Regions from separate parts of the Homo sapiens genome. Here region 2 is linked to region 1. Evidence: fine-mapped expression QTL. Tissue or cell type: thyroid. Region 1 holds a variant in brackets; the other region holds the start of a gene. All regions are shown on one strand. Distances are from middle to middle.

Region 1 (8,100 bases):
AGGCAGGAGAATCGCTTGAACGTGGGAGGTGGAGGTTGCAGTGAACCGAGATCACACCATTGCACTCCAGCCTGGGCGACAGAGTGAGACTCCATCTCAAAAAAAAAAAAAAAAGAAGTATCAGAACCAAGAGAGGATGGCAGCAGGGGATGGCAAGGCGCTCAGTGGTGAAAGCGTCAGGACTTGAACCCCACCGCCACTACTTTGCAGCTTTGCATTTTTGCATGAACCACGCGGCTTCTCCAAGCCTCCCTCTCTTCATCCACAAAACAGGCCTGATTGTGACAATCTACTCAATAGGGTGATTTTGAAGATTAAACATAGTAATACAAAACAAGTTATTCTGTTTGCCAAAGACATTACAGATGAGGTCATGTAGCCAATACCATGCCAGGAAACCAAAACTCACCTCAAGAAATCTGTTGGGTGGGACGGGCATGGTGGCTTATTCCTGTAATCCCATCACTTTGGGAGGCCGAGGCAGGTGGATCACGAGGTCAGGAGTTTGAGACCAGCCTGGCCAACATGGCGAAACCCCCGTCTCTACTAAAAATACAAAAAAATTAGCCAGCCGGGCGTGGTGGCATGCGCCTGTAATCCCACCTACTCGGGAGGTTGAGGCAGAAGAACTGCTTTAACCCAGGAGGCAGGGGTTGCCATGACCCAAGATTGCGCTAATGTACTCCAGCCTGGATGACAGAGTGAGACTCCGTCTTGGGGGGGAAAAAAGAAAAGAAATCTGTTGGGTAGCCAGGGCATGGTGGCTCATGCCTGTAATCCCAGCACTTTGGGAGGCCAAGGCGGGAGGATCACTTGGGGCCAGGAGTTTGAGACCAGCCTGGGAAACACAGTGAGACCCTGTCTTTACTAAATATAAATGTAAAAAAAAATAGCTGAGCATGGTGGTGTGCACCTATAATCCTAGCTACTTGGGAAGCTGAGGTGGGAGGCTTGCTATAACCCCAAAGGCTGAGGCTGCAATGAGCTGAGATCACACCACTGCACTCCAGCCTGGGCGACAGAGTGAGACCCTATCTCAGGAGAAACAAAGAAAAAGAAATCTGTCTTGTCCTAAGGCTGACAGGGGCAAAACCAGGATCTGAATCACGTGATTCCCGACAGGGCTTTGGCCAGCGCTGTGTGAATACTCACACAGATGGGGGATGCTGGGCAGCTTCAGCTCAGAAGGAACACTGAGTGAGGGACAGATGGACTGGTCCGGCAGGGGACCCGCCCATTCAGCAGATGTCCCTGGGCACAGCTCACATGTCAGTTCTCTGCAAAGCGGACAGGCGGCTGAGAAGTGTCAGAGCCTGCTAATGAGGGCTGGGCAAGAGAGAAGCAGAAGCGAACTTGCCTGGGTCGGGGGAAGGGGATGGTGCAAAGCAACCCTGAGGCCGAAAGCCTGTGTAGCTAGAACCAACGGGGGTGGGGGCGGGCGCTCAGGGCTCAGGGCTCAGGAAAATGAGGTGGCTCTCCTAGTTTTACCAGGGAAAGGAAAACAAGGCAGGAATTTCCGGCAGGGAAACCTGGCTACTCGGTGGGACTCTTAAAGATGACACTTTTTCCTCTATCCTCGAGTGCAGCCTCAAGACGGGCCCTGCTGGTCCATCCTGGGGCGACAGGTGTAGCCAGATTCCCCTCCAATCAAGGAGTCCAACTGGAAAGCTCCAGTGGGTTACCCAAGGGCAGATACCAAGCAAGTCCCTAAAAATGGAGGCCAGTGTGCCCTGGAGGGCAAGTATAAATATGGGGAACTCTGAGCCGGGCGCAGGAGCTCACACCTGTAATCCCAGCACTTTGGGAGGCAGAGGGCCGATCATCTGAGGAGTTCGAGACCAGCCTGGGCAACGTGGTGAAATCGTCTCAACTAAAAATACAAAATTAGTTTGGTGTGGTGGTGGGCGCTTGTGATCCCAGCTTCTCGGGAGGCTAGGGTGGAAGAATCACTTGAACCCGGGAGGCAGAGGTTGCAGTGAGCTGAGATTGTGCCATTGCATTCCAGACTGGGCAAACAAAGAGTGAAATTCCGTCACGAAAAAAATAATAATAAAAAATATGTGGGGAACTCTTAAGTAGAGATGGGGGTTCCCCTCACTTTTGCCTCTTCCACGGAGTTAAAGTGTCAAGGAAAGGGGTTCCCAGGATAAAACTTTCAGGAGTATTCGGTTTTAGGGGCTACAGGCAGAGGCGCAGGACCCTAGAGGGATTTTTTTTTTAGCTGGAGTCTCACTCTGTCGCCAAGGCTGGAGTGCAGTGGTGCGATCTCAGCTCACTGCAAGTTCTGCCTCCCGGGTTCATGCCATTCTCCTGCCTCAGCCTCCCGAGTAGCTGGGGCTACAGGCGCCCGCCACCACGTTCAGCTAATTTTTTTGTATTTTTAGTAGAGACAGGGTTTCACCGTGGTCTCGATCTCCTGACCTCGTGATCCACCCGCCTCGGCCTCCCAAAGTGCTGGGATTACAGGCGCGAGCCACCGCACCCGGCTGCTAAAGGGATTTAGGAGGTGGGTGGAACCACAAAGGAAAAGCTAGCTGCTGGTGGGGTCTCAGCTTGGAAGACGTCAGGGTGTGAACTGTCACTTAAGGAACAGTTTAGGATAGAGCAAGGGATGAGGAAGCCCACCTGGAGTTCGGCAGGAGTGGGTGACCTCAGGTAGCCCCCTCTTTTGAGAAACCTGGCCGGGAAGGTTGGAGACATGGCTGTGGCTTGAGGCTAGTGTTTTTTTCTTTTTGGGGACGGAGTTTCACTCTTGTTGCCCAGGCTGGAGTGCAATAGCACGGTCTCGGCTCACTGCAACTTCTACCTACCAGGTTCAAGGGATTCTCCTGCCTCAGCCTCCCAAGTAGCTGGAATTACAGGCGCCTGCCATCATGCCCAGCAAATTTTTGTATTTTTAGTAGAGAAGGGGTTTCACCATGTTGGCCAGGCTGGTCATTACAGGCCTGAGCCACCTCGCCGGGCAAGACTAGTGTTTGATTGTTCGTTTTGAGATGGAATCTTGCTCTGTCAGCTCACTGCAACATCTGCCTTCCAAGTTCAAGCGATTCTCTTGCTTCAGCCTCCAGAGTAGCTGGGACTACAGCCATGTGCCATCACGCCCCGCTAATAGAGATAGGGTCTTACCATGTTGCCCATGCTGGTCTTGAACTCCTGGGCTTAGGAGATCCTCCCACCTCGGCCTCCCAAAGTGCTGAAATTACAAGTGTGAGCCACTGTGCCCGTCCTGGAGTCAAAGGCTTTGGACTTGAATGCCATCTCTGCTACTTTAGAGCTGTGTGTGCATGTACTTTTAACTTCTCTCTGTCTCCCTCTCAAAATGGGCCCGATAGTAGGTTCCATTTTGGTCTGGTCCCACCAGGACCTCTGACTCGCTGGCGACCTCAGGTAGGGGCTCATGTAATAGCCCAGCTCCTCAAACACGGAGGATGGGTCCCACTCCTGACCCAGCCTCATTTTACAGCAGAGCGTGAAGGCCGAGACTAGAGGCTGCACCAGGCTGGGGAAGGGGCAAATTCTAGATTACTCACCAGGCCCGTACCCATGAGAGCCCTCAGGCCTGCAGCACCGTGGATCCAGAGGCAGAGACAGAGCTTTGTAGAAGGGTGAAAACACTTCCTCCCCGCTTCCGGCTGCAGAAAAGCCACTTTCTCGCGGCAGAGCCCAGACTGGCAACCCCCAGGCCTTCTGCACCTCACCTGGGCAGCAGGCACGCTGACTGTGTGTGTTTCAATCTCTCCAGGCTCAGAGGGATGGCGGGGGATGCTGCCTGCGCGGTTGCTAGTGGCGGACACAGCTGCCTGGCTGACACTGCCTTTGTCATGCTCCAGAGCACTCAGCCAGCCCGGGGCCCCTCACCCACTCCCTCTCTCCTCCTGCCACCAGAAGCAGCCTCTTCCCGGCTCCCACCCTTTCTCCCCGAAGCCACTTGTACCTGCTCCAGAGCCTGGAGAGGTGACAAGTGCTTCCCAGACAACAAAAGCATCTCCCAGGAGAACAGATGTTACGCACACTCAGCTACACCCTTGCTCTGTGCCCTGATTTTAAGCTGTGTTTGGGCAGCTCTTTGGGATGAAACTGAGGCAAGGGGTAAAGGGCCTGTCTTGGTCAAGGTCATCCCACCTTGGGACTCCTGGGTGTGTTTCAGACATCCGTCCCCTTGGGTTCCAATGCTGGTCTGGCCACTTACAAGCTGTGTGACCTTGGGCAAGTTATTTGACCTCCCAGAGCCTAATTTCCCCCCAGATAACGACAGATAGGTAGTGAACCCACCTCTTGCTAAAAAATGTGAGCCATTATTGTCATTACTCCATCCTTTTAATTCCTCTTTCTCTCCACTCCAGCCACATCCGCCTCAATGCCTGCTGCCCCTGGACCTTAGGCTTGGGATGTGAAATCTTTCTGGAATGTTCCTTCGTTAGTTCCTCGCATGGCTTGTTCCCTCGCTTCCCTCTTTTGAGTCTTGACTCAAGTCACCTCCCCAGGGAGGCCCTGTCCTGCCCTGTCCTCCCTGGGCGCTTATGTGACATCCGAGGCGGTTTCCCAATTCGACTACCTGTGGCTCTTGCGCCTGGAACGTAAGCCCCACGAGGACAGGACTGTTTCACTTCTGACTCCCGTGTCCGCAGCGATGGAAAGAATGACTGTGGGCGCCTACCCCCGGAGGATGCTGTCGGCGCCCAGTCTGGCGGCTCCCGGCGCGCGCCCGCGAGGTCACGTCCGGGGCGCGCCGGCCGGAAGGAGGCCCCGCGTGGGGGTAGGGGCGGGGCGTCCGAGCCAGGCCACGCCCCCCGGACTCGCGCCCC[C/G]CTCTCAGCGGCAGAGCCAGCCAGCCTGGGGCCGCCTCGCACTTCCGCTCACCAGCCGGCTTGTTCATATTCATGAGGCGGGCGAGAGGCGGGGCCCGGGTCACCGGCGGCGCCCCGCCCCTGGCTTGGAATCCCGCCCCGGCGGAGGCTTGGGCCCCAGTGGGGCGCCCCCAGCTTCCGCCTCGGGGAGGGAGTTTCCACTTGGTCACGACTCAAAAATGTGTCGCTCGCGCTTCTCCGCCCCCTCGTTCCTGCCCTGGGGGGGTCTCCTCCCTCGGAAGGCAGGAGGGGAGGGGCCAAGGGAGGGACGGCTCCTCCTCCCCGGGGCAGGTCCTTAGGGATCCCGGGCGGACTCCTCTCCCTCCAAGTTAGCGCCTTCAACAATCTTTCCCCTACCCCGTCAGACAGTCTTCTGTCGCCCAGAGCTGGAGTGCAATGGCGCGATCTCGGCTCACTGCAAGCTCCGCCTCTCAGGTTCAAGCGATTCTCCTCCTTCAGCCTCCCGAGTAGCTGGGATTGCAGGTGCGCGCCAACACGCCTGGCTAATTTTTGTATTTTTAGTAGAGATGTGGTTTCACCATGGTGGCCAGGCTGGTTTTGAACTCCTGACTTCGTGATCTGCCCGCCTCGGCCTCCCAAAGTGCTGGGATTACAGGCGTCAGACGGCGCACCCAGCCCTGCAATAATCTTAAATTTTTTTTTTTTTTTGAGTTGGAATCTCGCTCTGTTGCCCAGGCTGGAGTGCAATGGCGTGATCTGGGCTCATCGCAACCTCTGCCTCCCGGGTTCAAGCGATTCGCCCACCTCAGCCTCCCAAAGTGCTGGGATTACAGGCCTGAGCCACTGTGACCGGCCTTTTTTTTTTTTTTTTTTTTTTTGAGACTGGGTCTCACTCCGTCCCCCAGGCTGGAGTTCAGTGGCACAATCGGCTCACTGCAGCCTCCACCTCCTGGGTTCAAGCAATCTTCCCGCCTCAGCTGTCCAAGTAGCTGTGACTACAGTCATGCACCACCACAACTAGCTAATTTTTTAATTTTTTGTAGAGATGGGGCAGGGTCTTAGTATGTTGCCCAGGCTGTTCTCGAACTCCTGGGCTCAAGCAATCCTCCTGCCTCGGCCTCCCAAAGTGCTGGAACTACAGGCGTGAGCTACTGTGCCCAACCAAAACTACCTTTTTTACTTTTTATTTATTTATTTTGCGATGGCGTCTCGCTCTGTCACCCAGGCTGGAGTGCAGTGGTGCAATCTCAGCTCACTGCAACCTCTGCCTCCTGGTTTCAAGCGATTCTCGTGCCTCAGCCTCCTGAGTAGCTGGGATTACAGGCGTGTGCCACCATGTCCAGCTAATTTTTGTATTTTCAGTAGACACCGTGTCTCACTATGTTGACCAGGCTGGTCTTGAACTCCTGACCCCAAGAGATCCACCTGCCTTGGCCTCCCAAAGTGCTGTGATTACAGGGATGAGCCACCAGGCCCAGCCCAAAACTACCTCTTTTAAACTTCCCAAGGATCTGTGCAATATTATGATACCGAGAAGTTCAGAGCAGTTGAGTGACTCACCCACGTCACACAGCCGGCCTCAGGTTTTCCAGAAAGGTTGGTCCTGCTGGGTTGGGGTGGCAGGTGCATGTCTCCCACGGCCTTTCAGGAAATGAGGCTTACCTAAGGCACTCCTGTCTTGCTGGATGTGGCTGAAGGTTGGGTCTGTGCGCCACACTGATGGGAGGGAGAAGCTACATGCTAGGAGAAACGAAACCATGAAGGCAGGACAGGCTGCGTAATGTAAAATGAAAATTCGCGGGCCATGTTCTAAAATGATTAAGAATTTCAAGACGGTGACAGCAGAACATTCAGCCACACTCAGGCCCTTCTAAGGGCCAGCCCTGTGCAACTGCATAGCTCACATGGCTTCCATGAAGCAAGCCTCTGATGAAGGAGCCCAAGGGTGACAGCGCTGCCACCAGGGACATCCCCACCTCTGATAGAACTCTCCCCCCTAGCCCAGGCGCCCCATCCCGTCCCCGCCCTGGAATGCAGGACCCAGTCTCTAGACTTCCAAAAGCTGAGCATTTTAGGCTTTGCAGGACAGGTTCTTGGGGAGTCAGGTGGGTCACCCTGGGAGTGTCTCACATCTGCAAGTCCCAGCCAGGCCCCTGGGGCTGCACCTCCTGGGCATTTTCAGCTCTGGGCCCTGCGGGCAGGTGGCGCTGTGTTGTACATGCCAGGCCCAGCATGGCTTCGGTTCTGACTTGAAGCCCTCCTTTCTCCCTGGGGCAGGGAATGAGAAGCAGCCAGGGCCGCTTCCTAGAATAAACACCCCACCCGCAGACAGCCCCAGCTCTGTAGGCTCAGCCAGCCAGCGCCAATGGAGAGAGAGGCTCGCCAGGCCACCGGCTCAGGGTTGATAAGTCATCCTGATCTCACTCCCTCCATCACTCCTGCCTTGTGACTGGGCTCTGCCCGCTGTGGGCTGCTTCATTCATAATAGCTACCATTTGCGGGCTCTTTCTCCCAGCCACGTGCTGCTGGAAGCCCTTTCTGTGCACTTCCCACTGAGCCTCACAGAGGCCAGTGGTAATAGGTACCCTGAGGACTGCGATTTCATAGATGGGGAAACCGAGGCTCAGAGAGGTTAGAGGGCTTGGCCAAGGTCAAGGGCCAGAGGTCTGGATCTGCCACCATTCATCCATTCTGATTCCTGTCATCTCTCCTACATCTACAATGTAGGTCTCAAGGGTTACTTCTTTTGTTTTTTTGTTTTTTTTGGTTTTTTAGAGATAGGGTCTAAGGGCCAGGCGCGGTGCCTCATGCCTGTAATCCCAGCACTTTGGGAGGCTGAGGTGGGTGGATCACCTGAGGTCGGGAGTTAGAGACCAGCATGGCCAACATGGCAAAACCCCATCCGTATTAAAAATACAAAAATTAGGCGGATGTGGTGGCACACGCCTGTAATCCCAGCTACTCAGGAGGCTGAGGGAGGAGAATAGCTTCAACCTGGGAGACAGAGGTTGTACCACTGCACTCCAGCCTGGGTGACAAGCAAGACTCCGTCTCAGAAAAAAAAAAGAGACAGGGTCTCAGCTGCATATGGTGGCTCACGCCTGTTATGAGGCTAAGACAGGAGGATTGCTTGATCCCAGAAGTTCGAAACTAGCTTGGGTAACATAGTGAGACCCCTGTCTCTACAGAAAATATGAAAATTAGCTGAGTGTGGTGGCACATGCCTGTAGTCCCAGCTCCTTGGGAGGCTGAGGTAGGAGGATCACCTGAGTCTGGGATGTCAAGGCAGCAGTGA
Region 2 (8,081 bases), 53 kb before region 1:
CGGGAAAAAATGACACCATATATTTCAGTCCCTCACATGTGTGTAACTTGACCACCTGCCCAATTCAGTGTCCTTAAAATAAGAGCAAACCAAATGCTTGGAAGGAGTGAAATTATTTCAACTATTGAGACTCGGCAAGAATTTCTTCTGAGAATCCTCGTAAAGAGGAAACAGATACAGCACAAGGTAATGACACTTGAGAACATTCTTAGAACAGACATACATTTTCCATGAAGTTTATCCCTAATAGAGACTCTTAAAATAGGGCAGGGGACCAGCCAGGCGCGGTGGCTTATGCCTATAATACCAGCACTTCGGGAGGCCAAGGCAGGTGGATCAGTTGAGGCCAGGGGTTGGAGACCAGCCTGGCCAACATGGCAAAATCCTGTCTGTACTAACAATACAAAAATTAGCTGAGCACGGTGGTGCATGCCTGTAATCCCAGTTACTCGGGAGGCTGAGGCAGGAGAATCGCTTGAACCCAGGAGGCGGAGGTTGCAGTGAGCCGGGATAGCACCACTGCACTCCAGCCTGGGTGACAAAAGTGAAACTTCATCTAAAAAAAAAAAAATAGGGCAGGGGAGGCCACAGAGAACCAAGAATGCCTGGCCCCGCCTCAAAGAAATCACCCCCCAAACAGGGTCCATGACACATGCTTAGGACACTTCTCCTGAACTGTCACCTTACATGCTGTTGGTAGGAGAGAAAATTGGTACCATGCATTTGGGGGATGGTAGCTACTAAAATCTAGTTATAATAGCCCTAAGTTGGAAACAACATAAATGTCCACCATGGCCAGGTGCGGTGGCTCATGCCTGTAATCCCAGCACTTTGGGAGGCCGAGGTGGATGGATCACGAGGCCAGGAGTTCAAGACCAGCCTGACCAACATGGTGAAACCCTGTCTCTACTAAAAATACAAAAAGTAGCAGGGTGTCGTGGTGTGTGCCTGTAATCCCAGCTACTCGGGAGGCTGAGACAGGAGAATGGCTTGAACCTGGGAGGCAGAGGCTGCAGTGAGCTGAGATTGAGCTATTGCACTCCAGCCTGGGCGACAGAGCAAGACTCTGTCTCAAAAATAAATAAATAAATAAATAAATAAAAATAAATAAAATGTCCACCACTAGGTGAATGGATAAACAAACTGTGGTCTATTCATACAATGAAATAGTACTTAGCAAGAAAAATGAACATTTATGTTTACATAAAAACATAAATAAATCTCAGAGATATTGTGTTGAGCAAAAGAAGCTAGACAAAAAGAACTTACGTGTTGTATGACTGATACAAGCTTCTAGAACAGGCAAAACTCCAGCCTGGCCAACATGGTGAAACCCTATCTCCACCAAAAAATTGAAAAATTAGGCCAGGCGCAGTGGCTCACGCCTGCAATCCCACAACTTTGGGAGGCCGAGGTGGGTGGATCACCTGAGGTCAGGAGTTCGAGACCAGCCAGGCCAACATGGTGAAACCCCGTCTCTACTAAACAAAAATTACCTGGGCGTGGTGGCGGGCGCCTGTAATCCCAACAACTCGTGAGGCTGAAGCAGGAGAATCACTTGAACCCAGGAGGCAGAGGTTGCAGTGAGCTGAGATTGTGCCACTGCACTCCAACCTGGGCAACAACAGTGAAACTCCACCTCAAGAAAAAAAAAAAAAAAATTAGCCAGGCGTGCTGGCACACACCTGTGGTTCCTGTTACTCGGGAGGCTGAGACGGGAGAATCACTTGAATCCAAGAGGTGGAGGTTGCAGTGAGCTGGGATCATGCCCCTGCACTCCAGCCTGGGCAACAGAGCGAGACCCTGTCTCAATCAATCAATACACAACAGCGAAAACTAATATACTGTGACAGGAATTAAAACCAAGGCCAGGTGTGGTGGCTCATGCCTGTAATCTCAGATCTTTGGGAGGCCGAGGTGGGAGGACTGCCTGAGGACAAGAGTTTTCAGACCAGCTTGGGCAGCATGGTGAGACCTTGTTCCTATTTTTTAAAAAAAGAGAAGAAATTAAAACTATGGTGAGATTCCACCATACACCTACCAGAATACCTAAATAATGATAAATCTGACAATACTAAGTGCTGGTGGGAATGCAAGGCAACTGGAACTCTCATAAAAATGGTAGAGAATAGAGAACTACATACACATAAAACATTAAAAAACGTGTAAATCTGAGTAAGTCCCATGTACAGTACCAATGTCAATTACCTGGCTTCTATGCTAACTGTAGCTATGCAAGATGTTAACACTGAGGGATACTGGGTGATCTCCCTATACATCTCTTTCTTTTAAAAAAAAAAAAAAAAAAAAAGATAGGCCAAGAGCAGTGGCTGACGTCGTAATCCCAGCACTTTGGGAGGCCGAGACGGGCAGATCACCTTAAGTCAGAAGTTTAAGACCAGCCTGGCCAACATGGTGAAACCCGTCTCTACTAAAAATACAAAAAAATTAGCTGGGCGTGGTGGCGCACACCTGTAATCCCAAATAACTCGGGAGGCTGAGAAAGAAGAATCACTTGAACCCGGGAGGCGGAGGTCCACTGCGCTCCAGCATGGGTGACAGACCGAGGCTCTGTCTCAAAAACAAATAGAGATGAGGTCTTGCTATGTTGTCCAGGCTAGTCTAGAAATCCAGGGCTAAAGCCATCTTCCCCCTTCAGCCTCTCTAGTAGCTGAGACTACAGGTTAGAACCACCAACCCAGACTTCTCCCTGTACATTTCAATAATTATTTCAAAACTTAAAAATCTGAAAGAAAGCAAACTGCTTGATAGTGGCAGAAAGCAAGCATGAGGGGATTCTGGGGCTTGCTGGGGGTGTTGGCTACCTGGGTGTATGTTCAGTTTGTGAAAATTCACGGAGCGCCTAAGCTATGCACCCTCTTCTGAATGTGTTACCCAGTACTCCAATAAAAGGCTTTTGGCCCTGGAGAGGTGGCTCACGCCTGTAATCCCAGCACTTTGGGAGGCCAAGGCGGGCGGAGCACCTGAGGTCGGGAGTTCGAGACCAGCCTGACCAACATGGAGAAACCCCGTCTCTACTATAAGTACAAAATTAGCCGGGCGTGGTGGCGCATGCCTGCAACCCCAGCTACTCAGGAGGCTGAGGCGGAAAATCGCTTGAACCCGGGAGGCGGGGGTTGCGGTGAGCCCAGATCGCGCCACTGCACTCCAGCCTGGTCAACATGAGCTAAATTACGTCTCAAAAAAAAAATAAATAAATAAAACAGCCGAGCTGGAGGTGTGTGCCTGTAATCCCAGCTACTCAGGAGGCTGAGGCGGGAGGCTCGCTTGAGCCCGGAAGGTGGAGGCTGCAGTGAGCCGAGATCGCGTCACTGCACTCCAGCCTGGGCGACACAGCACGACTCTTTTAAAAACAGGTTTTGTTGAGTGCCGCATTGATCCGGTCCCTCCCACGCCCCCTGTGCTTCACAAAAACGTCAGGTCCGAGCTCCGGCGCGGCGGTCTCCTCCTCCGCGGGTCCGGGCCGGAACTCGGCAGAAGGACGAGCAGCTCCTTGGGGCCGGCAGTCTCCCATCGCACTGAGATTGACACGGCAATGTTTCGGATACTCTGGGTAAAAATTAAATGTCTTACGAAAAGTCCTGTCACCCGTTTCTTGATTACTTTTTACGGCGGCTTCCAGAACCTTTCGTCAGCGCGAGCTCCATGCCCGGAGGCCGCCGTCACCTGCTCTCCGGGAAGGCCCTGGGCAGGCAGGCAGCGCGCTGAAGGAGTCCGGGAGCAGATCGTGCGAGAGAGCGCGCGGGCGCCAGGCGCGGGGGCGGGGCCAGACGTGCGTGCTGGCGGGAGCGCGCGCGCCATGGCCTGAGGCGTCTGGGAACATGCGCGGCGAGGGGACGGGCGGGGCGAGTCCGGGAAGGGGCGGGGCCGCAGCCGCGCCCCTGACTTCCACCGCCTGCGGGTGAGACCGCCTACCATCGCCCGGCGCGCTTGAGCATGCAAGGGGAGGTGGGATTCCCCTGGCCCGCCCCCAAGCCACGCCTCTGGCCTATGAGAACTGAGCTGTCCCGCAGGGACCGAGAGAGGAGCCTCCGCTTTCGCAGGGGCTGGGCGTTCCGGGCGCACTGCGCCCTCTGTTGATCCTCTTAGGAGCTGCGTGGGGACCGTCGGGCCTGCCGTTTCGCACCTGGCCGAAAGGGGTCGCTGTGCCGGGCCAGATCCTATGTAAATTTAGCTGGATAATCTCAGCAAGAGAAAATTGGCTGCAGTGCAAAGAAGCCAGGCTCAAAAGGCAGGGTTATCCCATTTCTATGACATGTCACAGGTAAGACTATGGCAACATAGATCAGTGGCTCCTAGGGGCTGGGTTGACCACCAAGAGGCATGGGGGGCATTGGAAATGAAGGAACTAATTCATATCTTTTTTATTTTGCTTTGGTTTTATTTATTATTTATCTATTTATTTATTTTTGAGACAGTTTCGCTCTTGTTGCCCAGGCTGGAGTGCAATGGCGCGATCTCGGCCCACCGCAACCTCCGCCGCCTGGGTTCAAGCGATTCTCGTGTCTTAGCCTCCCGAGTAGCTGGGATTACAGGCATGCGCCACCACGCCCGGTTAATTTTGTATTTTTAGTAGAGACAAGGTTTCTCCATGTTGGTCAGGCTGCTGTCGAACTCCCGACTTCAGGTGATCCGCCCACCTTGGCCTCCCAAAGTGCTGGAATTACAGGCGTGAGCCACCGTACCCGGCCTGTTTTATTTTTTCTTTAAATCATATCTTGATCATAGTGGTGGGTAGGAAACTATGCATTTGCGTGTAGGAAACACGCAAAACCAAAAATCAGAAAGTGTGACTTCTACTAAATGTAACTACTTTCATTTTTAAAAATTATTTATTTATTTATTTATTTTTTAAGATGGAGTGTCGCCCTGTCACCCAGGCTGGAGTGCAGTGGCACAATCTCAGCTCACTGCAACCTCCACCTCCCCGGTGCAAGTGATTCTCCTGCCTCAGCCTCACCAGTAGCTGGGACCACAGTTACTGGCATTCGCCACCATGCCAGGCTAATTTTTGTATTTTTAGTAGAGACGGGGTTCCACCATGTTGGCCAGGCTGGTCTCAAACTCCTGACCTCAAGTGATCCGCCCACCTCGGCCTCTCAAACTGCTGGGATTACAGGCGTGAACCACTACTGTGCCCAGCCTAATTTTTGTATTTTAGTAGAGTTGGGGTTTCACCATGTTGGCCAGGCTGGTCTTGAACTCCTGACCTCATGTGATCCACCCGCCTCGGCCTCCCAAAGTGCTGGGATTACAGGTGTGAGCCACCACGCCCAGCCAACTACTTTAATTTTTTAAAAAAGATATTAAAACCAGAAAGCAGGTGGTTGCTGGAGACTGGGAGGAGGGGGAAGGAGTGACTGCTTCATGGAGTCATTTTGGAGTGACGGACATGTTTTGGAACCAGGTAGGCTGTGTAACACTGTGAATGTATGAAGTGCCATTGAATTGTTCACTGTAAAATTCCAAGAAAACCTGCAGACTCCTGCCTTTCTGTGAAGAGTTCGTGTCCACTGTCATCGTGGGGTGAGCTGTGATTCTGCCTTCTGCTCTGGCCTCAGTCCCCAAGCACCCAGCACTGTGAGCATGAGGCATAGGAGGGGACCACGGTGTAAATCGATCTCTGGTCACGGAAGAGTGAAGGATTTAAAGGACCATGGCCTAGCCTGGGCAACATGGCAAAACCCTGCCTCTACAATAAAATATAAAAAAGTCAGCCGGGCCCAGGCCAGGCACGGTGGCTCACACCTGTAATCCCAGGACTTTGGGAGGCCAAGGTGGGTGGATCACCTGAGGTCAGGAGTTCAAGACCAGCCTGGCCAACATGGTGAAACCCCATCTCTACTAACAATACAAAAATTAGCTGGGCATGATGGTGGGTGCCTGTAGTCCCAGCTACTCAGGAGGTTGAGGCAGGAGAATCGCTTGAACCTGTGAGGCAGAGGTTCCAGTGAGCCAAGATCGTGCCATTGCATTCCAGCCTGGGTGACACAGCAAGACTCCATCTCAAAAAAAAAAAAAAAAAAAAAAATTAGCCAGGCTTTGTGGTACAGGCCTGTAGTCCTAGCTACTAGGGAGGCTGAGGTGGGAGGATCACTTGAGACCAGGAGGTCAAGGATGCAGTGAACTGTGATCAAAACACTGCACTGCAGCCTGGGCGACAGAGCAGGACCCCATCTCACACCAAAAAATAATAATAAAAATTTAAAAATAGCCAGGCATGGTGGCTCATCCCTTTAATCCCAGAACTTTGGGAGGCCGAGGTAGGCGGATCACTTGAGGTCAGGAGTTCAAGACCAGCCTGGTCAACATGGTGAAACCCTGTCTCTACTAAAAATACAAAAATTAGCTGGGCATGGTGGTGCACTCCCGTAGTCCCAGCTACTTGAGAGGCTGAGGCAAGAAGATTGCTTGAACCCAGGAGATAGAGGATGCAGTGAGCCGAGATCACGCCACTGCACTCCAGACTGGGAGACAGAGACTCTGTCTCGAAATAAAGGACCATGCCAATCCCCAATAGGATGCAATGTCCTTGTGCCGTTATTATCGCCAATTTTTAGAAGAAGAAATTGAGGCTCAGAGGAAGCGGTTTGTCAGAGGGGGAACTGACCTCTGGCAGACCAATTCCAGGATCTTAGCACTTAAACACCACACCACGGGGGGGCAGGGGGGTGCTGGGGGGGTGCGGTTGGAGGGGGTGGGGTTCCCCTCCTAGGGGAGGAGAGGATGAGGCTCAGAGAAGTTACAGAAGCCCAGGAAGTGGCAAAACCTAGGGATTAACCAAAGCGTAGGGACCAAGCAGGGCCCCTGAACACCTGTGTCCTTTCCCAGGTTTTCGGAATCGGTGGCTTGGTTGTCCTTCTCTCCTTGCCGCCCACCAAAGAGCCACTCCCCAGCCTCAACACCATCTTCCATCTTTACAGAATACCCAGGGTCATCCCAGGGAAACTGAGGACCCCAATTTTTCATCGCAACACCACACACAAGCTGAGGGAGTAACTGTGCTCACACACACCCAGTCCGCTTTGGGGGGCCCAAGGAGCCCCCCTACTCTAGATGGGGTAGCCCTGCCCTGGTCTTCAGGCCAGCCCACACCCAGGAGACTCAGAATCTAAAAAACAAAGTACAAACTTTATTTTGTTTCTTTACAAAGGCACGGTGGCCTCTTGGTTTTTTTCTCCCCACTTTCTTAACAAAATATAATAGCTTCTCCTTGAACACGAAGACCTCAAAATTGTAAAAAAAAAAAAAAAAGAAAGAAAAAAAAGAAAAACAAAACAAAAACAGAAAGCAAACCAAAAAGAAATAAAAAACCAACAACAAACAAAACAAAAAGAGAGAGACAGACATTTTTGGGGTGGAAGATGAGACCTGGAGGCAGAGGTGGGGGCTGGGGGGTGGGAGAGTGGCGAATTCTAGTGCCGAGATGGGGAAGGGGGAGGGGGGCACAGCAGCAGCAAACCCCAACCAAGAAGCAACGGAGACCTCCGGGCCCCCAGAATGCCCCAGCCTAGTCTTACCCCCAACCATGTAAGTGCTTAAAGGAGAAAGAAGAAAACCCAAAAAGAGGAAGGAAAGGGGATTGAAGGCTGACAATCCCAGGCTGGCTCTGGGCAGGGAAGAAATAACCTGGGGTTTTGTTTAATTTTCCCTGTTCTTAAAAAACATATTTAAAGGAAAAAATGCTTTTTGGCAGAGAGAGGCCAGGCATCTCCGTGTCAGCTTCCTCCAGCCCCCGGGGCCGAGGCCCCGCCCTGGGGTGCCGATGCTCCCACACGCTCTGCGACACCCCAGCCCCGGGACCTCGGGTTGAGTGGCTTCGTTCAAAGGTCGATTTACAGTATTGAAAAAGAGGTCATAAAAGAGACCCAAATGACATCGTAATTTTGTAAAAATTTCTCACTCATTCGCCCATGTCTCTCCCTGTGGCTGCCCCGGCTCCCTCCAGCCCCCAGAAGGGAGAGGAGGGCTGGGGGGGTAGTCAGGGAAGCTCCCCGTCCCCCGACGGCTCCTCCCGGCTCTGGTCCATGGCGTCACTGTCTGAGGCCTCGGAGTCGGAG

Evidence for each region. PIP is the estimated chance that this variant, and not a neighbour inherited with it, causes the effect.
Region 2: LINC01569 starts here. The variant in region 1 is fine-mapped to the expression of LINC01569 in thyroid (GTEx, PIP above 0.99).

Annotation. Positions count from the first base shown.
Region 1 is chr16:4,302,902-4,311,001 of GRCh38, forward strand. No RefSeq gene overlaps it. Among named protein-coding and RNA genes, the nearest start is that of GLIS2, 9.1 kb to the right of the region's middle. RefSeq lists an enhancer at 2,410-2,922. The variant C/G (reference allele first, on the strand shown) is at 4,806.
Region 2 is chr16:4,250,053-4,258,133 of GRCh38, forward strand. It overlaps LINC01569 (long intergenic non-protein coding RNA 1569), which reads right to left and starts at 3,737. Exons shown (of 3, transcript NR_039999.1): 1 at 3,595-3,737; 2 at 1,270-1,982. It overlaps TFAP4 (transcription factor AP-4), which reads right to left. Exons shown (of 7, transcript NM_003223.3): 7 at 7,134-8,081. The coding sequence ends at 8,003. RefSeq lists enhancers at 2,619-3,241, 3,306-3,515 and a silencer at 3,746-4,005.